Regions from separate parts of the Homo sapiens genome. Here regions 1 and 2 are each linked to region 3. The links come from fine-mapping of genetic effects on plasma protein levels. A gene starts in region 3. Each other region holds a variant in brackets. All regions are shown on one strand. Distances are between the middles of the regions.

Region 1 (8,179 bases), 200 kb before region 3:
TGCTATGTGCCTGGCACTGTGTATGCATCGCCAGTCATCCTTACAAGGAGGCTCAGAGAGAGGTCACTTGCTCAAGGTCACGTAGCAAGTCGGTGGCAGTGGTTGAGTCCAGATTGTCTTTGCCAATAAAGCCTCATCTCCCCTTTCATCAGTAAAATGGGGGTGATCGGTTCCGCCCTGGGTCACAGGTGCTTGGAAAGATTGGATGAGGTCCACAAACTGCTTTGGGAACAGTACAGAGCTGTGCTCTCCTGGGGGGATGGAGGAGTGGGGCTGACCCATTTGGGCCTCAGAGGCTCTGCTATCACTGGGTAGAGCTGCCTTTTGAGACCCTGGGAACCTTCACTAACTCCAGGGTCTCGGCTTCCCCCCGCCCCTCAGCTCTCCAGCTCTCCGGCCTCCGGCCTCAGGCTTTTTCTCCCCGTCTCTAATCCTGACCTCATCAAGTCCTGGGAAGAGGGTTGATCCACAGGAGCAAATCCCTCATTCAGAGGGGCAAAATCAGCTTAATTTGCAGCAATTTGAAGCAGGTCTTTGCCAGGATTTGAATATCAAATTATCCCACAGCCTGGGCTGGTCTGGGAGGCCTCCCCCGGCTGCAATATGGACCGATGTGCTCAGGCTTCACCAGGGAGATTGTCCTGGGAGTGACTGAAGCTGAGGCTGTGGAGATGGGAGTGAGTGTCAGAGGGTAGTGGGCAAGGTGGGGGTCACCAGTCAGCCCCCACTGCCAGAGGGCACTGCAGCAGTGACTGAGGGACAGATGGAGTTTGGGGTCAAAACCTCCTGTTCTTGAGACTCACCGGGGGCTCTTGTCAAATGTGCGGATTCCCAGGCCCTTCTACAAACATAAGAAATCAAGATTTTCTTGACTAAGAAAGTTTAGAAAAATCCGGTGCAGCTCAGTTAGCCAATCAACAAACACTTGCTGTGCACAATCTGTACTGCCTCTCATTTTGAGAGAATCAGCCTCCTCTGGTGCCCACCCTGTTCATTCCCAGCCTCTGGTACTGTGGACAATATTTCCTTGGCTGTCTGCTCCATGATGGCCCCTGAGGCCTGAGTCAGCGGCTGCAGAGAGCTCTTCAGCCTTCCCTTCCTGGTCTGCATGCCCAACTCCTCTGGCCACCCGGCCCTTTCATTCCTTTTCTGCAAGCTCAGGCCTAGCAGACATCCTCTTATGTCAGTCACACAGGCCTCGCTGCCCAGACCTGAGCCCCGGGGCTCAGACCCCTCTCATGGGCATGTCATGAGCTGTGAGCCTCTTCAGGAAGGCCCGAGGTTGGTGAAACATTCTGGTCCCGCCACAGTGTTGTGTCCCTGTGGGCCCTGCAGTGTAAAAGTAGCAGCCAGGGATGTTGGGATGGCTTTGCGCAGGCCCACTGTCCAGCCAGCACCATCAACAGAGATGAGAGGCTCTCGGTGTGACAAGCATTATAAGAGCCACAAGTGCTTCCATTTAATTCTCACAAAATCCTATGGAGTAGGTACTATTATTATATACACCCATTGTATAGATGAGGAAACTGAGGCACAGAGAAATTAGTAACATGCCCCACCCAGGTCATACAGCAATAAGAGGTGGACCTGGGATGCATACGCAGGCAGTCTGACTCCAAACTGCTCCTCTTAACCACTTTGTTCTGTCTCCATCTATCCACCTTTACCTAAAATTTTGTCCTTCTCTATATTCTCCACAGCAATGACTTGCCTTATTTTTAAAGGCATAATCACAGTGTGTTTGGGGAGCAAAGAAAGGAGCGCATAACCTACACTAGGGCAATCACAGAGGCTTTTTGGAGGTGGTGTCTTTATTTGTTCAATGATGTGGTAGAGCAACCACTGTGTGCCCAACACTGGTGATACAGACATGAAGAAGCCATGGAGCTCACAAACGGGGGCCTGAACACCCCATCGGCAGTGCTCAGTGCACTGATGGAGAAAACACAGGGCATCGTAGAAACACTGGGGACACCCCAAAGCCCAGGAGATCAGGGAAGACTTCCTGGAGGAGAGGCACTAGTCCCCTTCACTAGATCTAGTCATTAACCTGAGGTTCAGATGGCCCAGAGGTCCCACTGGGCACACTCACCCTTCTTTGTCTCAGCCAGTCCATCCTCCGTGGACCGTCTGGACCAACCAAGCTTGAGACCCTCTCTGACCACCTGTCCTAGACAGGTAGACCCCCTCAGGGGAAGTCTGTGTTCCCTACTGCTATGTGTTCTTAGAGGCGGGGCCTGAGCAGGAACGAAACTCCTGAACCCCAGATCCTATGCCTAGCAGGGTCTGGTGTAAGTCATTGGCTGCCTTGGGAAAGCCCAGTGGTTTGATTCAAGGATGACTAGAATTTAGAGCAAAAAGGGACCCCAGAAGCCACCCAAACCTGTTTTGAAGGAAGCCACAGGAGATGCCCACGCCCCACAGCTCAGAGATGCTGCAAATTCCAGCCTCCCAGTGCCCTATCTTCTCTCTGGGGTGGTCTAGCCCCACCTGGCACTCCCCCAGTCTTTGTCCCCGTGTCTGCCTTGCCTGATGGTGGCCAGGGGGCCTTTCCGGAATAACGATGGTATTGGCTCAGATTAAGGGCAACTAGCTGGCTCTTGGCTTTTCATTTTTATATAACAACTAATCTCCTTCTAATCAGCCATTATTAAATTATATTCCATTTTTAATTCATTCACAGATCACCGTTGGGACAGCTGGATGGATAATTGGAGAGAGATAATTTATGTAAATGAGGAGCAGCAGAAGGTGGGGGAGAGGGAGGCCCAGGGCGCCAAACGGAGCCCCCTCTGTGTCCAGGCTGGGGAGGGGGCAGTGGCCTGGCTCCTCCTGGAAACCCGCGCCTGGGGATGCTGGGAGGATTGGGGGCTGCCATGGGACCTCAGGGCTCCTGACCGGTGGTTCCTGGTGTGGCCCCTCAGCATCACCTTGAACACTTTTGGCAAATGGGAAGCTCACTACTTTGGGGGCGGAGTGGCTCTCAGACATCAGCTCCCCCTTTTAGAAGCAGATCCTGAGAGGCAGAATGCCCCAGAAAATTCTGGAGTCAGAGCTGTTTTTGATTCCAACTCCACCACTGTGTGCCGTTTCCTAACCTTAGTTCCCACGTCTGCAAAACGCAGGTAATGACAGTATCTACCTCATAGAGTGCTGTGAAGCTTAAGTGCCTGGCACCTAAGGAAGAGACCAAGACAAGTACATGGTGGCTCTTATCACCCTTATAGGACAGTGTGTATCTTTCAGAATCTTCCTCTCTAACATCTGCCTTCTGGCCATGGAGCTTCCTTCTGGTAACACACAAAAGAAATCCACTTCCTTTGCATATCTGAAGACAGCTCTGTACCACTGATAATAACACTCCGGAGGCTTGTGTCTCATTGTGTCCTCCGTGTCTCATAGTGTCTCATTGTATCCTCGGAACGACTATAGAAATTGGGGGCGATTGCGTCCATTTTACAGATGAATATACTGTGGACCCAAGCTCTCTCCTGCCAATTCCTTCAACAAAAACGATAACAAGCCCCAGAAGCCTGCTTAGAAAGGAACACGAGGCTCAGAAAACCTGGATCCCAGCCGGAGGCTATTTTGGGAAGGTGCCTTGGGGACTGGCAGGCAGGGTCAGGGATGGCAGGGAAGGTGGGTGAGAGAGGTTGGACCTCCACCCTTCTTGGCTGTCCCTTTGGGGCCCCAAGAATCAGGCACGATGGGCATTCATGGGCACAGGTGGTCTGACAGAGCTTGAGGGGCAAGGTCTGCCTGTGCCTGGGGCTGGCATGGGCTGGCAGGGAGGCCCTTGGACCATTCCCAGAGGGAGACAGGGGATTAAGGGGGGTTAGGGAGGTGGTCCCAGAGGGTCCATGCAGAGTAATGGGATTAGCTCTTGGGCAGTGAGTGAAAGTTATTATCGTGTGGGGCCTCTGGCCTCCCACCCAAGGCTGCAGCTGTCACCCATCCTGGGAGGCACCAACAGCCCCCTCCACCCCCACCTTGGGGCAGGCTGGCACCTCTTCTCCCCACAGGCTTTTCTGCTGTGGTCATCTGCCTAGGGGCTGGCCGCCTAGCTTTAGCCTCCTGTCGGTCCTTGGCAGACTGGGCCACCCACACAGTATGCTCTAGACTTGCTCTGTGCCTCGGTTTCCCCTTGAACAGAAAGATACAAGAAGGTGCTTGAGATCCTCTGAGGCATGGGGGTTCGGAGCCAGGCCCCCTGGGTTTCCGGCTCTGCCACGCATTCGCTGTGTGACCCTAGGTACATCTGTCAGCCTCTCTGTGTCCTAATTGGTAAAATGGGGGCAGTAGCAGAGCAGCGTTAGGGTTTTCATAGCGGAGGGCTGGGTAGGGAGCATAGGGTCGGCCT[G/A]TTGGTGCTGGGCACCTCCTAGAGGTCGGGGCCGCGGAGGGCTGCGGGCCTAGGGCCTAATGACAAGAAGGGACCAGTCTTGTCGGAGCCTCGCAGCCCCTGCGAGGCGGGTGAAAGGCAGCGCCTGAGCGAAGCCGCAAGCGGGAGACTTCGGAGACGCTCCCGGCTCCCTCTAGCGGTGGCCGCGCGAGTGGCGCGGCGCGAGCGCGATCCCCTCGGGGTGGGAGGAGACCAGAGAGGCAGGTGGCGGTTGCCGGTCCGGGAATCTGGGCCAGTCCGCCTTCCTCCAAGGCATCAGAGGGGAGGGATTTCAAGGGTCCTCAAAGGTTCCCCTTCTTAAGCAATGCATAGCACCCATCCTAGGAGCGTCCGTCCGTTCACTTGTATGTCTGTCCGAATGGAAGTGCCTCCTTGGGCCAGGTGCGGTGGCTCACGCCTATAATCCCAGCACTTTGGGAGGCCAAGGCGGGCAGATCACTTGAGGTCAGGAGTTGGAGACCAGCCTGGCCAACATGGTGAAACCTCGTCTCTACTAAAAAACAAAAAATTAGCCAGGCGTGGTGGCGCATGCCTGTAATCCCAGCTACTTGAGAGGCTGAGGCAGGAGAATCGCTTGAATCGGGGAGGCAGAGGTTGCAATGAGCTGAGGTAGCACCACTGCACTCCAGCCTGAGTGACAGAGTGAGACTCAACTATAAACAAACAAACAAACAAACAAATAAATAAAGGGCCTCCTTGGAGGCCCAACACATCAGGGACATCTCATCCACCGCTTACTCCTCCCAAGCCCAGCAGAGCAGGGAGGGTGGCGGAGCATTTGCCCAGTGTGCACGGCTAATGCCATCCCGTCCACGTGATCAAGTGGTACCTGGAAGAACCTGACAAGGCAGCTCCAGACTAAGGACAAGTCAACCCCTTTTCTAGCCTGTTTCCTCATGGTGAACTGACAGGGTGGGACTAGGTCAGTAGTTCCACCTTTTCACTCGGAAGAGCCCCATCACCCCGTTTTTTAGAGACAGGGTCTTGCTTTGTCACCCAGGCTGGAGTACAGTGGTGCCTCCACAGCTCACTGCAGCCTCGACCTCCTGGGCTCAAGTGATCCTCCTGCCTTGGCCTCCCAAAGTGCTGTGATTACCGGCGTAAGCCACCGCACCCGGCCCAGGGAGGCACTTCCATTCGGACAGACATACAAGCTAATGGACAGACGCTCCTAGGTGTGAGCCACTGCACCCGGCCAACTTTTACGTAATTTTAAAGAGAAGAAAAAAGTTCACATTCATGCAGTGGAATACTGTGCTGCTATTCCACATTCAATCTCCAAGACAGTATTTATTTATTTTTTTTTAGACGGAGTTTCGCTTTTGTTGCCCAGGCTGGAGTGCAATGGCGCAATCTCGGCTCACTGCAACCTCCACCTCCCGGGTTCAAGCTATTCTCCTGCCTTAGCTTCCTGAGTAGCTGGGATTACAGGCATGTGCCACCACGCCAGGCTAATTTTGTATTTTTAGTAGAGATGGGGTTTCTCCATGTTGGTCAGGCTGGTCTCGAACTCCTGACCTCAGGTGATCCACCCGCCTTGGCCTCCCAAAGTGCTGGGATTACAGGCATGAGCCACTGCGCCCGGCTGACGGTATTATTTTTAAAAAAGGAAGATGGACAGTACGTTTTATTTCACTTGTGAAAATGAAATATGTATATACATATAAATATTTTTTAATTTCTGGAAAAGTGTATGAAAAACTGGTTACTGGTTGGTTGTGGGAAACAGAATCAGATGGCTGGAGGGCAGGGGAGTGAGGGAAGCCTGTGGTTTCCTCTACACCCTTATTTTAGTTTAAAAAATTGTGTGTATATGTATTATCTATTTTGATAAATAATTCATTAAACATAACAGTATATACAGGTGTAACATATTCACGGAATCTCTTACCACTCCTGTCAGCACACAGTAGGCACTTAATAAGTGCTAGCTTTTTTTTGTTCTTTGTCTCTCCAGAGCATCCATTAATGATTTGTGTTCACCTGACCATCACCCCTTTACAGTGAGCTTAATTAGTAAGGTACAATGTTTGCTAAATGACCGAGACCAAGGAGAGGAAAGATGTTTCCAAGCTTTCATGGCGGCGAGGCTAAGGGTCTCTGTTACCACAGGAGATAGGGAAAGGTCTTCCTGTGCCAGGGCTGAAGTAGTGGGTACAGATTACAAGGGGCGGCTAGGGTGGGGTGAGGGGACAGATCTGGCATGGGAGTGGTGGCCTTTGACAGTCAGTGGGAGCGCAGAGCTGTCCAGGTGGCCCCCAGCCTCACCCTGCCCTGTGCCGAGGAGAGCGGGAACTCTGTTCAGCCTCCCAGGACCATGGCTGGGGGCATGAACTCAGTGCCCAGGGGCTGCCTGGAGACCCCCCTTGCTTTAGGCCCTGCAGTCCCAAGACCCAAGGGGCCCTCTTCTTCTTGGTCTCTAGTTAGAGAACTGTGGTCTTCTCATCTGGTGAGCTCCATATGGCACCAAGGGCACTTTGTGAGTGGGGCTCTGATCCCTGGAAGGTGCTGGGCGATGGGGAGGGAGTGGAGAGGAAGTGGTAGCCAGATAGCCCGGCATCCAGCAACCGTGCGTCCTAGCAGCCCATTCACATTTTTCTTTTCTCTTTCCTGTTTTTTTTTTTTTTTTTTTTGAGACAGTCTCACTCTGTTGTCCAGGCTGGAGTGCAGTGGCACGATCTCAGCTCACTGCAACCTCTGTTTCCCAGGTTCAAGCGATTCTTCTGCCTCAGCGTCCTGCGTAGCTGGGATTACAGGCACCCGCCACCTGGCTAATTTTTGTATTTTTAGTAGAAACAGGGTTTCTCCATGTTGGCCAGGCTGGTCTCGAACTCCTGATCTCAGGTGATCCACTCGCCTCGGCCTCCCAAAGTGCTGGGATTACAGCCATGAGCCACCACGCCTGGCCAGCCCACTCACATTTTTCAAGGGTGCACTACAGGCTTGAGGCCCGGGGGCTCAGAATTTGGGGATACAATACAGCTTCAGCAGTTGTTAGGTGAGGTGGCCCTGGGTCTTAAACCACCCATGTCCACTGTTGCCACTAGTAAAGACATTGAACATTTACCATGTGGCAGGTGCTCCACAAGCATGATCCTACTGAACCCTCACAAAGACCCAGGACAGTGTTTAGAACAAAAAAAATTTTCTTCCCAGGGATGGAAACTGTGGCTCAAAAACATTGTCTCTTTCTGGGTTCACAGAACTCACAAGTGGCCAGGCCAGCATTGGAAGCCAGCTCTGCCTGCCCGCACAGGCCTGGACGCCCAGCCACAACCTGGTGTCCCCTCTGCCCAGCTCTCGCCTTGGCTCTCAGTAAGTGCCTGGAGCTGGTCACCACGCCTTGAAGCTCCGCCCTTCTCCGTGGCCTCCAGTTCCTACCGCCCCACTGCCCCAAAGCTGTCTCACCTGCCTCTAGGCTCTGTACCTCCCTTCCAGTCCACTCAGCTTCCCAGGAGGTCCCCAAGTACCCCAGTGTCTGGGGACAGTGGTGGGCAGAGGGCCCCAGGGCCTCTCAGCTGGGCCCATGGCTGAGCGCTGTGGGGAGGCGGGCGCAGTGCACAGAGCTGATCCTAACCAAGTTTGCCAGCCCAGCTTTTCTCATGGCTCTCACACAATGGTCTGCTTTGTGCCCACCTGCCGATAATGCTTAATTAGGCGAGGAGGTGATTAATTTGAGGTAATTGACAGCTAATTAGAGGCCCACAGGCTCATTAACTTGACATCTTGTCTTCGTGAATTGGCTGAGTAGGGTCAGGTGATGCAAGCCGCTGCTTCTCC
Region 2 (8,179 bases), 190 kb before region 3:
ACTACTATTTAGACTTCTATCACATAGATTAGTTCTGCCTGTTCTAGAATTTCATACAGATGGAGTCATACGGTATGTGCCCTTCATTCGTGTTTGGGAGATTCATCCATATTACTGTGTGAAGCGGCATGGTAGTTTGTTCATTCTTTATTGCCAGTTGGCATTCCACATAGAATATACAATCTATCCATTCTCCTGCTGATGGCCTTTGTTCCCCAGTTTTTTACTTGAATGAATAAAGTTGCTATTGTTTTCACACGTGTCTTTTGGTGTCAACTCATTTTTGTTGGGTATAAGTGGAATAGGCAAAGGTATATTCTTTGAATTCTTTTTTTTTTTTTTTTTTTTGAGACAGTCTCACTCTGTTGCCCAGGCTGGAGTGCAGTAGCACAATCATGACTTTCTGCAGCCTCAAACTCCTGGGTTCAAGTGGTTCTCCTGCCTCTGCCTCCCAAGTAGCTGGGACTACAGGTGTGCACCACCATGCCTGACTAATTTAATTTTGGAGAGATGAGGTTTCACTATATTGCCCAGGCTGGTCTTGAACTCCTGGCCCCAAGTGATCCTCCTGCCTCAACTTCCCAAGGTAATGGGATTACAGGTGTGAGCATCATGCTTGCCACCCCCTGTCTTTTTTTTTGACAGCGTCTCACTCTGTGGCCCAGGCTGGAGTGCAATGCTGCCACCATAGCTCACTGCAGCCTTGAACTCCTGGGCTCAAGCCATCCTTCCGGCACTGCCTCCTGAGCAGCAGGGACTACAGGGATGTACCACTGCGCTGGCTAATTTTATTTAATTAAAAACATTTTTTTTGTAGAGATGGGGTCTCACTATGTTGCCCAAGCTAGTCTCTAGCTCCTGGACTCAAGTAATCCTCCTGCCTCAGCCTCCCAACATGCCGGGATTACTGGTGTGAACCAACGCATCTGGGACACTTGATCCTTTCGACAACCTGGTGAAGTAGTTATTTTCCCCCTTTAACGGAAAAGGAAACTAAGTTCAATAAGGGTAACAATCCTATCCAAGGCCACACCCCAAAGCTATTAAGTAGCAGAAACCACATTAAAACTAGAGTGATCAACGGTCACATGGTCAAGACTGTTATTCCTCCCAGGAAACCCCTGAGTTCCAAGCAAATCAGACGGCTAGTCACCCCAATTCAAACCCGACTGGACTCAAAAATGGAGCTTTTTTTTTGTTTTTTGTTTTTGTTTTTGAGATGGAGTCTCGCTCTGTCACCCAGGCTGGAGTGCAGTGGTGCGATCTCAGCTCATTACAAGCTCCGTCTCCCGGGTTCACGTCATTCTCCTGCCTCAGCCTCCCGAGTAGCTGGGACTACAGGTGCCTGCCACCACGCCCGGCTAATTTTTTGTATTTTTAGTAGAGACGGGGTTTCACTGTGTTAGCCAGGATGGTCTCGATCTCCTGACCTTGTGATCCACCCACCTCAGCCTCCCAAAGTGCTGGGATTACAGGCATGAGCCACCGTGCCCGGCCCCAAAAGTGAGCTCTTAATCATCAGGCTGGGATTTCCTCTGGCCTAAAATTTCACCAGACAGCACATGGTGTTAACATAGACTCAAGGCAGAATATTTTGTCTTCAAAACACTCTTGTGATATAAGGATTTTACTTGTTTTTGTTTTATTTTGAAGAAAGTGATTTCATTTAAAGTAGATCTGAGTTAGGTAAGAATAAAATTATTTATATGAAAAGAATTTTCTAACACATTAATCCATCAAACAAGGATTTATTCAGCACCCATGAGCTGAAAAGAAGTTTAAGGCAGTCCTTGACTTCAAGAAATTAATCATTTACTTAGGGAGCTAAGAGTAAAGCTTAAGGAATAAAATTAGAGGATAATAAACAGTAATAATAATCACCCCATATGTGAGTACTTACTGTGCCCAAGGGGCTTTACCGAGTCTAATTTAATCTTTACAACACAGCTGTGAGATATGTTCTGCTGTTATGCTCATTTCAGACGAGGAAACCAAGACTTGGTGAAGTGAAGTGATTTGGTCAAGGAAAAAAATCATTGAGCTGTTCACTTAAGATTTGTAGATTTAATATAAATGAGTTACGCTCTGATAAATCTTTATTGAATGGGAAACCCTTGAAAATACGGACATTTTTTGCTTTCTCTGCTCTTGAATTTCCTATTCCCCAATAATTTAGTGCAAAATGTTAAAGATGTATTTTGGCTTGTTTCATTTTAGGAAAATAGCAGGTCGGGTCAAAATGGCGCTTTTAGCCTTAATGGCTTGGGTGCAAATAGGCATAGCTTGTGACTGTGAAATCAGAGGTCCTGGGTTGCAGAGGGGTCCTGGAGCTGACACAGGCCAATGGGCCAGTACAACCTGCTTGGTTCCCCAGCTGCATGAACTGTTGGCCCCATGGTCAGTCCTGACCAGAAATGCACAAGGGTATTTGTCCCCTGGGTCCTCAAGGTCAGCTCCTCTGTCTCCCTCCAACACACCCCAAACCTTATCATATCCCTCAACCTCCTGACCCTGCCACCCATCTCTGCTTTTCAGGTTTGCAGGCCCCCACCCAGAGGCACCTTCATCATTCCTCCCTGACGTGTCGACTTTCATTTTCCTAGGACGAGTCTCATTTGACAGTCTCCTGCCCATATTTCTAAGCTCTCTGGGTCTCGTTGTGCTATTTCTCTGTCCTCTCTGGGGTTTGTAACACCAATCATCTGCAGGTTTCATTAGCATGCTGTTTACCCCTGTCTTTCAGATCATTAATGAAGATGTGAAGTGAGACACCAATCCTCACAGCCCCCACCACGTGCTCCCTCCCATGCCTGGCGCTGCTGGAGTCATTATCCTTCCTGGTGTGACAGGGTCAGAACCAAACCAATTTGCATCAGTCTTTGGTGATGTTGTGAAGCGTCGCCTGCCCTGCAATCCTGCTGCTGTAACAACTGCTTCAGCTGTCTGTTCTGGAGTGCTCTTCGCTCCTTTGGAAGACTGATCAGATCTGGCCACCCCAGTTCTGGCTGAAAGCCCTAGAGCGACCGCAATGGTAGGGCAGGATTCAGGGCTACACATGGCTGACATTGTTCCTTCTTCGTTTTGCTCTTCTGAGCTGGACAGAAAGCAGTCCCTCTTTGGAAAACAGGATGGACAAGTGCATACATTAGTGGAGGACGCAGCAGATGTGGCAGGCATAGAATTTTACTCATTGCTCCATCTATTTCTATCAAGGAAAATGGGGAGTGCTCCCAATTTCCGCCCATTTTCTAGCCCAGGCCTAGTCAGATGTGTGGGCTTGTATATTCTGGGAACCTGGGGCTGATGTGGTCAAGTCACTTCTTGGGGACAAGGTCAATTCTTCTCCATTTTCTCATGTCATTTGGTCCTGAGGGTTTTATATCTTCTTTAGCAATTCCATGACTATGCTTCTCATCCTGCAGGGAAACTGACTTTATATACACACTTGTCTCCCAATAAAAGTGAGAACCACCTCCTACATATCCCTTGTGTCTTCCAGACTCCAACTCAGATGAAATGCACTTCCTTCTCTTTCCTGATTGTGCAGCGCCTCCAACTGGTTGTTTGTGATGAAAACATGAGTATAATTACAGACTCTTCTCTGACCCATTTCTACTCCTGACCCCCAACTCATCTTTTCTTCCTTCTCTCCAATTGGGAAGGGGAAGGGAAGCAAGGAGAAAGTAGCGAAGGAAACTCTCGCAAACACATCTGAAGTAAGATGCTGCATGTCCAAGAGCTGGGGGAAACTTAACGCTACGACTCTACAGCAAAGTTAGGTGAGACATATTTTCTCAGGGTAGGTAAGGAAAGACTGAGGAAAAAGATAGCTATTTGGCAACACTGAACACCTACTGACTGAATGATTTTTTTCTGCTCCTGGGCAAAGGCTCTGAGGAGTGTGGGGAGAGATGGGACTGTCATGAATAGGGAACAAGTTTTTTTTTTCCACATTACATGCAATGAGGTAGAGATCCTAGGGTATAGCTGGATGCTTATTAGGTGCTCAGTAAACACTTATTGGTGTACAGATTGATATACATTTGCATACTAAAGAACAAATTTCATTACCATATACAAAGGTTATCGATGAACTATGTATGTATGCACATGTGTGCAGGATAACAGGCTGAGCTGAGAAGCAGGGCTTTTAAAATCTGTATATCCGGCCCCAGAGGCTTTTTTCTCCCTGTATTATAAAATCAATACCTGTTTCCGTAGAGAGTTTGGAAAATGTAGAAGAAAACAACAATACCCCATATTCCTCCAACCAGGCAGCAAGCACTATTACCACCTTCGCCTATTGCCTTCCATTCACCACCCCACTGTAATTGTTATATCTGGCCATTTCACTTATCCTTATGACAAAACCATTTCTTCCATGATATCATAACCTCTTTGCAAACACACCAAATGGCTGCATGGCAGTTCGCTACGGGAATGTACCATGATTTACTCAACAGCTGCACATCTGAACAGCCTTTGGGCCACTTGAAGGCAGAGGCAGCAGCAGCAGAGGTGGATGGCGGGAAGTAGGAGGCCAAGGTGAAGCAGCTCGCAGGACCTTGCTTCCCCATGAGCC[C/TC]CCCGACCACCATTCCTCAGAGATCATTTCTGGTTCCAATCCTCACATATCCTTCATGGGTCCTGCCACAGCCAGCACTTCTCATTTCTACTCAGCCTCAAGTCACTGACTTTCCCAACTTGACTCTTCTCAGCTGCTCCTTTGTGTGAAGTCACTGGCTCAGGCCAGCTTGGCTCCTGGGGCTTGGCTGCGTCCAGAAAGGCCCTGGGATGTGACCTTCAGCCTCGCTTGACCCTGAGGCCTCAGGCTGCAGTCAGGCGAGGGTCTCTCCATGGGCTCCCAGAGAAGGCAAAGCCCAGAGGAGGCTGCTGCGGGAGCAGAAGCCTGAGTGGACCCTGCTTAGTCCTGGAAAGGGACCTGACAGGTTTGCGAGAACCTGACAAATCTCACACCATAGAAAACTATCTGGCCCAGGCACAGTGGCTCATCCCAATACTTTGGGAGGCGGAGGTGGGCGGATCACTTGAGCCCAGGAGTTCGAGACCAGCCTGGGCAACATGGCGAAACCCCATCTCTGCAAAAAATACAAAAATTAGCCAGATGTGGTGGCACGTGCTTGTGGTCCCAACTACTTTGGAGGCTGAGGCAGGAGGACTGCTTGAGCCCAGAAGGCAGAGGTTGCAGCGAGCTGAGATCGTGCCACTGCACTCTAGCCTTGGTGACAGAGGGAGACCCTGTCTCACCAAAAAAAGGAAGGAAGGAAGGGAGGGAGGGAGGGAGGCAGGGAGGGGGGAGGGGGAGGAGTGGGGGAAGGAGGGAAGGGAAGGGAAGGGAAAGGAAAAAGAAAACTATCTGGAGGAATGTGGAGGACTGGTGGGTTAGGGGTAGGAGGTTATGACTGAATCAAACAGGGAAGTGTGTTCCTGTGCAGTGATTGGAAAAGCATGGATGCTCAGAAAATACTAGGACTACAAAGATTAGCAAAGTACAGTGATTTGAGGCTTATGTATGCCAAGTTCAGTATCAGTTCAGAAACTTGCCAATGTCACAAAGTATACCTTTCCCTCCCTTGCTTAATGCCACTGTCTGTAGAGTCAACAATGGTTTCTACTGAGTGTCCATGCTGGCACAGGGCCTCAGTGGGTGGAAGGATGGGGGTAGGAGAAATAGTAAACTGTCAGCTCTTCTGAAGGGTTACAGAAATGGTATTCTGCTTAACTGACTAGTCAAGGTAACCAGAAGTTACTATATTTTCCCTATAGGGATTGCCAATGTTTTTTTTGTTTGTCGTTTGTTTTTGTGTGAGACAGTCTCACTCTGTCACCCAGTGTGGAGTGCAGTGGTGCAATCTCAGATCACTGCAACTTCTGCCTCCCAGGTTCAAGCAATTCCCTTCCCTCAGCCTCCTGAGTAGCTGGGAGTACAGGCACCTGCCACCCTGCACAGCTAAATTTTTTTGTATTTTTTCATTTTTTTTTTATAGTAGAGACGGGGTTTTGCCATGTTGGCCAGGCTGGTCTTGAACTCCTGACTTCAAGTGATCCACCCGCCTCAGCCTCCCAAAGTGCTGGGATTACAGGTGTGAGCCACCATGTCCGGCCTAGGGATTGTCAATTTTTAACAAATGTGAGTATAATAAAAAATTAAATACTACATGGAATCTGTTTTATAGATCTATCCATCAAGCAATTATATACGTAATGGGTAAGATATGCCATGCACCATTCTCAACACTTTGCAATACTCGTTTAATCTCTACAGCTACCCTAGTAGTTAGGTGCTATTTGCACCCAGGCAGCCTGACTTCAGAGCCTGTGCCCTTATCCATGATGCTGATATGACTCTTTAAAGTGGAAAAAGTCCTAAGGAAACCAAGGCTTAGAGAGAAGTAACTTACACAAGATCACCCCTGCCTCTCTCTCAAAATCCAAGCACTTACTATATCTTAGACCAGCAATGAGGCTATGAACACCGAATGTCAAGGCACAGTTCATTCTTTCAACAAATGCTTATTTTAGCACCTATTATGTGCCAGGTAGTTCTGTTTATAACCAAAGAAACTGTAGGAAATTGAACAAATTTGGATCAATTCTTTGGCATGTCCCAAAAGTTATTTTTAAAAGTCAAATCTTATCATTATCCTCTCTGTGCCTCAGAAAACTGAAGGTAGAAAAACAATGCAACTCTGATTACTTGAGTTTTTTGGCTCCTCAGATTCTACATAACTGAATCTCCTTTGGTATTGGAGGTCACTTTCAGAAACATCAGGTATAGAGATCGAGACAGAAAGCAGAGGGCAAGAGAGAGATGAAAATATGTGAGCCCAATTCTGCTCCGAACTTGGGTTTAATTGAGATTCCAACTGCCACTCTCCCCTGCATTCCTTTGTCCCTGGCTATGACCAAGTTTACGGCTGTATCGCCCCAAGTAATCCCCGTAATGGGCTGCAATCCTGGGGGAGCTGTTTTTGTTCATTAAGTGACCAACCTCTGAGCCACATGGAGCGCGGCCAGTTACAGCTTCTTGCCCTGGCAGATGGGCCACTTTTCTGTTTTAAAAAAACAGGGATCTTTCAGGAGAGAGGAGATAGTAGGCAGGGGTTGGGGACACAATCAGGGACATAAAGGTGATGGGTGCTAGAAATGAAGGCCAGAGTGAGGGGGGCAGTGGGTGCCCCTTCCAGGTCATGCAGTCTTCTAGGGCAGAATTCACTCACGTGCTGTGTGTTAGCTTTCTTTGCAATGGTAACTATAGTTGTGTAGGGCTTACAGTTTGTGAAGGGCTCAATGTAGTTCCTGGAGTGATGCTACCAGTCTGCAGAGGTGGGAGGAGTGAGGGGGCCATAGACAGGAGGCAGCGAATGAACAGAGTAGGGCAAATAGCTGAGAGGGGGCTTCCCCTGAGGGTCAGAAATTCTCAGTGCTTCAGACTCCAGCTCAAGTGACAGGGGCCAGGCTGTGCCAAGAGCAGTTCTCTCAAGCCAACTGACTCTTACCTCTCTGCCCACAGCCCCAGTGTCTGCTTCTTGAAGTTGGGGAAACATTGCAGCAGCTGCTTGTTGGGAGACCCGTCCCCTCACTGCACTGCCCCACCCCCTCCCCGCCACCTGCCCCACCACCCCATGTCTGTCCTCTGGGTAGAGTTGTGTGAAGCGGAAGACAATTTGGGGCTTATTAGTGTCCCAGGGAGACATGTAACTTGTGTTGCTGGGACCCAAACAGCAAGAGTCTTAGCGGCAAACTCCAGCCGAGAAAAGACTGAGGAATTGTCTCACCTAATTACAGGGAATGGCCCTCTTTGTGTTTGTGATTCGGTACGGTTGTCCGATCGCTTTTGATCGCTTTTCTCTATTTGCTGGCTCAGGCCATGCTGGAATTGTGCTAATTAGAAGAGAAATGGACAGAGTGATCCTGTCAGCCCTGGTTACTGGTGGGGACAAAGCAGAATATTATTCTGAGGCAGTGTTTTGTGAGGGCCCTTCTTCCAGCTCTCATTAGGAGGAAGGGGCCCACAGGAGGGGAAGGTTCCAAATGCCTGGCCCAGCTAATGGAGCACTGGGGTGTTTCTGTGCTAATTAACAGGCTTTGCCAGCACTCACGCCAACCAGGAGCCTCACAGTTACACCTGGTATCGTCTGAAGCCCCCAGCTGCTCGAGA
Region 3 (8,179 bases):
TCCTCATTACTTTTTGCCAGTATCCGTGAAGTATCACGATACTTAATCCTAGAGAGTTCTGTGACTTCCAACCTGGCCTCCCAAAGGGAGGCATTGGCCTTGGCTCTGTCCACCACAGATTCATCTGTTTTTATTAACTTCCTGCATGGGAAGAGGATATTGACAGTATATGACTATTTATACAACTCTAATATGCAGATAGTATATAACTCTATTATATTACTATTAAATTTTTCTCTTTTTTTATTTGTTTTGCTTGGCATTGCCTGGCACACATGATCAAATATTGTTGGAAGAATAAGTTAATAAGAAATACATATTCACATTTGAAAAAAGAAAAAAAAAGAAATACATATTCACTTGTATTCACATAAGATAATTAAGTAAGTGCCTCTTCCTGGAGGAGGGGAGTCCTGGAGCATAACTCGAAAAGACTGGTAAAACAAAGGGAAAAGACAGGATAAGCCAAACTCATTTCAGAAAGCTTTCATATCTTTTTTTTTTCTTTTTGAAACTGGGCCTGGCTGTGTCACCGGGCTGGAGTGCAGTAGCACGATCTCGGCTCCCCAGAACCTCTGCCTCTTGGGCTCAAGCCATCCACCCACCTCAGCCTCCCAAGTGGCTGGGACTACAGGTTCATGCAACTATGCCCAGCTAATTTTTGTACTTTTTGTAGAAATGAGTTTTTGCCATGTTGCCCAGGCTGGTCTTGAACTCCTGGGCTCAAGTGATCCTCCTACCTCAGCCTCCGAAAGTGCTGAGATTACAGGTGTGAGCCACTGCGCTTGGGCAGTTTTTATACCTTTTCATTTACTTATTTGATTCTCCCATATTTATTTTTTTTTTAATAGAGATGGGGTCCCACTATGTTGCCTATGCTGGTCTCCAACTTCTGGGCTCAAGTATCCTCCCACCTTGGCCTCTCAACGTGCTGAGATTACAGGTGTGAACCAGTGCCCTAGCCTGATTCTCCTGTAGTTAAACTATCTTTTCTATTCCTACTCACTCAGTGCTGGACTTTGGTTCTCTCCACTGCAAACCCATTATCTCTGTTCAGTTTCTGCATGATGATACCCATTGGTAGTATAACTGTGATCTCCCACCCACTTTACCCTCCACTTTTGAGTGTGTTTTTTTTTTTTCTGGGGGAGGGACGGAGTCTCACTCTTTCACCCAGGCTGAAGAGCAGTGGCGTGATCTCGGCTCACTGCAAGCTCCGCCTCCCAGGTTCATGCCATTCTCCTGCCTCAGCCTCCCGAGTAGCTGGGACTACAGGAGCCCGCCACCAGGCCCGGCTAATTTTTTGTATTTTCAGTAGAGACGGGGTTTCACCGTGTTAGCCAGGATGGTGTTTTTGTTTTGTTTTGTTTTGGGCTAGGTCTTGGACAAAAAGTCAAGTCACTAGGGCAAATACGTTAAATAGTTTATCAGCTGGTGCCACAGTTCACCGGACTTTTTTTTTTTTTTTGAAACAAGATCTTGCTCTGTCATCCAGGCTGTAGTGCAGTAGCACCATCACAGCTCACTGCAGCCTCAACCTCCCAGGCCCAAACGATCCTCCACCTCAGCCTCCTAAGTAACTGTGACTACAGGCATGAGTTAGCATGCCCAACTAATTTTTAATAAAAATTTTTGTAGAGACAGGGTCTTCCTATGTTGTTCAGGCTGGTCTTGAACTCCTGGGCTCAAGTGATCTTCCCCTGCTCAGCCTCCCAAAGTGCTGGGCATGAGCCACGATGCCCCACCCACCGGGCTTTAAGGATGCCTGAGAAACCATAATCATTTATATAGAGGTGGAGAGGAAAAAGGATGGATTCAAAGATTAAAGTGGTAAAGGAAGAGATTTTTCTAAATATTTATTGTATAAGCATTAACAAAACACTCCCCCTTATATATGGTAGGTACCATGATATATAAATATGTACATATTTAAGAATATTTCACCTGTATTTGAATTCTAAATATTTTCACACATATGTACATGTGGACCTTTCTATACTGCCACCCTCCACATCCACTTTCCTACCTCTGGTTCTCAGTCCTCTTCCACAGAGGTAATGGGTTTGCAGTGGAGAGAACCAAAGTCCCACTTTCACCTTTTGTTCTCTTCAAATTAAGGCCAGCTCCATTCCCAACCCCTCAGCCTGTTATAGCTGTTGATGTCCCTTTCTGGCATGATTTAGGCACTAGTGATACACTGTCTCACTACGACCATCCAGGTATCAGGTCTGAGTGGCTCGAAGTACTTGATGCGACAGGGCATGGTGGCTCACGGCTGTCATCCCAGCACTTTGGGAGGCCGAGGCGGGTGGATCACCTGAAGTCAGGAGTTCGAGACCAGCCTGGCCAACATGGTGAAACCCTGTCTCCACTAAAAATAAAAAAATTAGCTGGGCGTGGTGACGGGTGCCTGTAATCACAGCTACTCGGGAGGCTGAGGCAGGAGAATTGGTTGAACCCAGAAGGCAGAGGTTGCAGTGAGCTGAGATCGTGCCATTGCACTCCGGCTTGGGCAACAAGAGCAAAACTTGGTGTCAAGAAAAAAAAAAAAGTACTTGATGCAAGAAATTAGACACTCTAATAGGACCACTGATACTCACTGTAGAAACAAAGCCAGGTTTCTCAAACAATGGGTCATGGAAAATCCAAGGAATAAGGTCTCTTACCCTTAGTGTTCCTCATTGTTCAAATGTGTACTGTAGAAGCATGGTCAAAATCTGAAAACATATGTTAGTGAGTTCTAGGAATGTGATAAGCCCTTGGCACTTTAAGGGCTAGACTAACTGTGCAGTTATGTAAAAACAAAAAAAAAATACCATAAAAGAATACTTACATTAACAAATGGGAAGAAAAAAGCCACATATAAGTATGTACATTGGGCTATCGTTTTATTAAAAAAGAATACTCCAAAATATAGTAGTGTTTATTTTTGGATAATGAGACTACAGGTGATTTTTGTTTTTTCTTTTGGTACTTCCCATGTTTCCCAAACTTTCTGTATTGAGCATGAATTACTCTCTTAAGTTACTTTACAAACATCTCAAGTTTGGTGCCAACTCTGTGTTCCCATATATGGTGTTGTTGCTGGACACCACGTATGACTCCAACGTGTCCAGAAACCACCGGGGTCCCCCAATAGGGCTAGTAGCAATCTAGCAGCAACTCCAGGCCTGTAAGGGGTTAGTGCTAGAACATTACCCACCTCAGTGGCTCTGATCAGTTTGGGAAAACCTCAATAATTATCCAACTTGGTAAAATACTTTAGGTGTCCCCTTTGAACCAAAAGAGATCTCTGAAAAGGCCCAAGGAACTACTTTATACATCCTCTACACGTTTAAGATAATCTGAACACATAGTAGAGATCTGCCAGACTATGGACATGGGAGCTGTAATCCTCACAAGCCGGGAGAGCCGGGGAGAGGGTCCGAGTGGGCCGGCGCGGGGGGCGCCAGGTTGCCAGCCCCAGACCCGAAATCCCAGGCAGGCCCAGGGAGAGGGGACTCTCGGGTGGCTTCTCCTTACTTCGTGTCTTTGCCTTTGCTCTTGCCTTTCTTTTTGTCCTTTCCCTTCGACGGCATCTTGGCTTCCCCAGGGGCTCCGCTGTCGTAGTTGCCCAGCCGCGGCCGCCCTGGCCAGCTCTGTCTCCAAGGGAACCGGGACGCCGAGCTGGCAATGCCCCACCCGCGCCGCTGACGGCGCGCGGAGAGCGCACGCGCCCGTGACGTAGCCCAGGCGCCGCGGCGCGCGGGGTGGGGCGGAGGTCGCGCCGAGGGCGGCGGGCTGCCGCGCAAGGGTGGCGCGCGCGCGGTGAGTGTGCGAGTGTCGGCGGCGCCGGATCCTCTACGTGGGGCCCGGGCTCTGCGGGCGGGAGGCGGGAGCTGGCAGCCCCAGGCGGTAGCGCTTCGTCCTGCGGCCTGGGTGTGTCAGGAGTCGCTGCGGTCGGGGCGCCCTTGCCTCAGGAGACTTAGATCCCCGCTGATCCGCCCGTCCCGCCGCAGTGGTCTGAGCCGCAGCCCTTTCCCGTGCCGCCCGCGGGTCCCGTTCCTCCCGTGTCTCCATGCCGCAGCCAGCGTGGCCGCGGCTACCTTGCCCTCGCCCCCGCTCCGCTTCTGCCGCTCCCGGCACTGCCTTACTCCTTTGGGTTGCATCTCTTTCCTGGCTTTTCACCCTTGCTGATTCTGTAAGGGATAGTGCAGCCAGCGGACGTCCCAGGCCAAATGTTTTTTGATAGGCAGTCGAGGACTTTCCCGAGGGCGGTGGTTGAGGGCGAGGCTGCCAGCCTCCGAAGAGCAGCGGCACGCCAGGGAGCCGGGCGGGGAGGGGAGTGCTGCCACCGAGGTCGGGAGCAGGGTCCTCGGCCTCACTAGGTCCTGTGTGGCCGATACTTCCTGCCCACGACCGCCCCCCGGATTTCCATTTGCTAATACCGGTCCGCAGCCTTCTTTCCTGAAAGTTGCATAAAGTTGGAAGCTCTTCAACTTGCCTCCCCGACTCCTGAAATCCCGAATACACCTCTGAAAAGGAGTGTACTCACAAGTATTCTCATTTTTCAATGAGAGTCAGTCAGTGAGTCATTAAGGAAGGTACGGTATTCTGAGTGCCAAGCCAATAGTTAGGAGACTTGTGGTTGAAGCTCTGCTCTGTTATACTCCATTTCAAATTAAAAAGTTTATTTTAAATGTGGTTGTAGATCCTTCGTCACCATTTCTCTAGGGAGGACTTAATCCGTACACTCCTTCCCGATGTCTTTGACCTCTAATTACTCCCCTCCGCCTTGTTTCCCACTTGCATAGTTTCTGTTTCTGAATTTCTGTTTCTTCTGAGGGAACATGCCGATTTGGTAATGATAAGCCTTGTAAACTTTTTTTTTTTTTTTTCTGAGAGAGAGTCTTCTGTCACCCAGGCTGGAGTGCAGTGGGGCATCTCGGCTCCCTGCAACCTCCACCTCCTTGGTTCAAGCGATTCTCCTGCCTCAGCCTCCCCAGTAAGTGGGACTACAGGTGCATGCCACCACACCCGGCTAATTTTTGTATTTTTGGTAGAGATGGAGTTTCACCATGCTGGCCAGGCTGGTCTCGAACTCCTGGCCTCAGGTGATCCACCTGCCTCGGCCTCCCAAAGTGTTGAGATTACAGGCGTGGGCCACCGCCCCGGCTGTAAACCTTTTTTTTGAGACAAGAGTTTTGCTCTTGTTGCCTAGGCTGGAGTGCAATGGCGCAATCTCGGCTCACCACAACCTCTGCCTCCCGGGTTCAAGCAATTCTCCTGCCTCAGCCTCCCCAGTAACAGACTATAGGTGCGTGCCACCATGCCAGGCTAATTTTTGTATTTTTGGTAGAGACAGAGTTTCACCATGCTAGCCAGGCTGGTCTTGAACTCCTGGCCTCAGGTGATCCACCCGCCTTGGTCTCCCAAAGTGTTGAGATTTACAGGCATGAGCCACCGCCCCCGGCTGTAAAATTTTTTTTTTTTTTTTTTGAGACAGAGTTTTGCTCTTGTTGCCCAGGCTGGAGTGCAATGGCACGATCTCGGCTCACCGCAACCTCCACCTCCCAGTTCAAGCGATTCTCCTGCCTCAGCCTCCCGAGTAGCTGGGATTACAGGCACACACCACCATCCCTGGCTAATTTTGTATTTTTAGTAGAGACAGGGTTTCTCCATGTTGGTCAGGCTGGCGTAAACCTTATTATACATACCATCTGCCAGCATGATCATGGCTTTTTCTTTTCTTTTTTTTTGAGATGGAGTTTCGCTCTTGTTTCCCAGGCTGGAGTGCAATAGCACGATCTCGGCCCACCGCAGCCTCCACCTCCCAGGTTCAAGCAATTCTCCTGCCTCAGCCTCCCGAGTAGCTGGGAATCCAGGCATGCGCCACCATGCCCGGCTACTTTTGTAATTTTAGTAGACACGGGGTTTCTCCATTTTGGTCAGGCTAGTCTCGAACTTCCAACCTCAGGTGATCCGCCCGCCTCGGCCTACCAAAGTACTGGGATTACAGGCGTGAGCCACCACGCCTGGCCGATCATAGCTTTTTCTGAGTGTATTTCTGGTATACTTTCACACTCCCGTGAGTCCATAGGCGGAATCGCCATATATTGAAGAGTTTATCTCTGATGTAAAATCTATAAAGTTACCATTAATTTTGTATGTGTAAGGTTCTGAAAAAGCACACTGTTGATAAGCTGCAGAAAAGAGAGTAGGGCATCTTCTGTCACAGGCTGTATATTTGGAATTTATTCTAGAAATTGGTAACTTTATAATATGAAAGTCAGTCCAAGACTCCTCATTTGAACATAGGCTTACAGATTAATGTATGAACATAAAAATTTGACTATAACAAGATTATTAATGTATGCGTAGTACCTTAGTTATAGTACTTTATAGTTTCTTTTATTGGTTTTTGGGTTTTTTGATGGTTTTTTTGAGATAGGGTCTTACTCTTAACCATGCTGGAGTACAGTGGCAGGATCATGGCTCATTACAGCTTCGACCTCCTGGACTTAAGTGATCCTCCCACCTCAGCCTCTGGCATAGCTGGGACTGTAGGCATGCACCACCATGCCTGGCTAATTTTGTATTTTTTGTAGAGACAGGGTTTTGCCATGTTGCCTAGGCTGGTCTTGAACTCCTGAGCTCAGGTGATCCTCCTGCCTTGGCCTCCCAAAGTGCTGGGATTACAGGCATGAGTCGCCACACTTGGCCTAGTTTATTTTATTGTATTATATATATTTTTTATTGACTAAGTTTGATTTTGTAGATAAAGCTGTTGTGACATGAATATGGCTCAGGGAAATGCCAAGATTTCATACTCTGGTAGAGGTGGATATAGAGTCTACATTCTTCTGAATCCCCTCATTTTCTACCAAAGAACTGGATGTTGTTACTGTCATCTGCTGGTGAGCAACAACTGATAGTACAGATAGTAGAGTAGGAAGTTGCTATTTAGTAGTTTATCTGGTAGCATTTCCTTCCACAGTTACTGGTAGGTGCCTTTACTATGAAGTTCCAGGAATTATTACTAAATAAATTTTCCTTGTTTCATTGTTTAGAACACTAATGCTTTTAAACTTGGAATAAGCCACTTCATGTTTTGTTGACTTGGTTTTGTAATTCTTTTTCTGTCCAGTTTTCCTTGTTCCTGGTCAACAAAGAAATGTGGAGTGTCTTGGCTGAATCCTCATACAGACAAGATCATTATGGTGCTGTTAGGTAGGACTTGTATCCAGATGTAAGGTAATATCTCCACTAGCTTAAATTTATAAATGTATTTCAAATGTTCCTGAATGGTGGTTTTCTTTTTTTCCTGAATTTAATTCTCTGTTTTTTGCCAAGTGATGTTAATTTTGTCCAACAAGCCATATATAAAATTTAGAACTATTATGTATCAAAATAGATAGAATTTCTGGCTGGTCATGGTGGTTCATGCCTGTAATCCTAACACTTTGGGAGGCCAAGGCAGACGGATTGCTTAAGCCCAGGAGTTCAAGACCAGTCTGGACAACATGGCAAAACCCTGTCTTTACAAAAAATACAAAAATTAGCTGGGTGTGGTGGCCATGTACCTGTAGTTCCAGCTACTCAGGAGGCTGAGTTCAGAGGATCACCTGAGCCCAGGGAGATCATGGCTGCAGTGAGCCGTGCCACTGTATTCCAGCCTGAGCAATGGTGTGACTGTTTCTCAAAAAAAAAAGGGGGGGCGGGGGGTGGGTAGTACTTCTGCTTTTTTCTTCTAGTAGGTCCAAAACTGGGTTTACTTTATAAATTCATCTATAACTTTATTCGGGTTTACCTTAGAGGCCATGTTTCCCTTCATAAATCATTCTTGAGATCACCTTATAGCAGATGGTACTTTATAGGTGGATCAGTCTAAGTGAACAACTTTAGATTTTGTTTCTACATAGCCTTTAGAATCCTGAATAAATATATTATTATCCAAACTGTTTCTTATGGGAGTTACTTTCTTTTTTTTTTTTTTTGAGAGGTAGTCTTGCTCTGTCGCCCAGGCTGGAGTGCAGTGGCACAATCTTGTCTCACTTCAACTCTGCCTCCCAGGTTCAAGCAATTCTCCTGCCTCAGCCTCCCGAGTAGCTGGGATTACAGATGCCTGCCACCATGCCCGGCTAATTTTTGTATTTTAGTAGAGACAGGGTTTCACCCCCATGTTGGCCAGGCCGGTCTT

Which allele goes with the higher level. Alleles are on the strand shown, and positions count from the first base shown. The strength of an association depends on the size of the effect and on how common the allele is.
In carriers of allele G in region 1, the plasma level of the protein whose gene starts at base 3,769 in region 3 tends to be lower than with A alone (strong association).
As copies of C replace TC in region 2, the plasma level of the protein whose gene starts at base 3,769 in region 3 goes down (moderate association).

Evidence for each region. PIP is the chance, under the fine-mapping model, that this variant and not a neighbour inherited with it causes the effect. Protein levels are from antibody-based Olink assays in UK Biobank. Linkage for the fine-mapping came from a reference panel and not from the study's own genotypes, which makes the PIPs less certain.
Region 1: its variant is fine-mapped to the plasma level of the ENTPD5 protein (UK Biobank, PIP above 0.99).
Region 2: its variant is fine-mapped to the plasma level of the ENTPD5 protein (UK Biobank, PIP above 0.99).

The regions. Positions count from the first base shown.
Region 1 is chr14:74,214,181-74,222,359 of GRCh38, reverse strand. LOC105370564 (a long non-coding RNA gene) reads left to right here and starts at 4,596. Exons shown (of 3, transcript XR_944025.3): 1 at 4,596-4,780; 2 at 7,603-7,714. The variant G/A (reference allele first, on the strand shown) is at 4,361.
Region 2 is chr14:74,203,516-74,211,694 of GRCh38, reverse strand. It overlaps LOC105370564 (a long non-coding RNA gene), which reads left to right. Exons shown (of 3, transcript XR_944025.3): 3 at 2,744-2,834. Among named protein-coding and RNA genes, the nearest start is that of VSX2, 32 kb to the left of the region's middle. The variant C/TC (reference allele first, on the strand shown) is at 4,583.
Region 3 is chr14:74,014,878-74,023,056 of GRCh38, reverse strand. ENTPD5 (ectonucleoside triphosphate diphosphohydrolase 5 (inactive)) reads left to right here and starts at 3,769. Exons shown (of 16, transcript NM_001249.5): 1 at 3,769-3,807; 2 at 7,127-7,233. It overlaps BBOF1 (basal body orientation factor 1), which reads right to left and starts at 3,708. Exons shown (of 12, transcript NM_025057.3): 1 at 3,523-3,708; 2 at 1-141. The coding sequence starts at 3,578. RefSeq lists enhancers at 957-1,251, 1,017-1,311 and silencers at 3,592-3,841, 3,872-3,941, 3,952-4,091, 4,132-4,201, 4,117-4,411.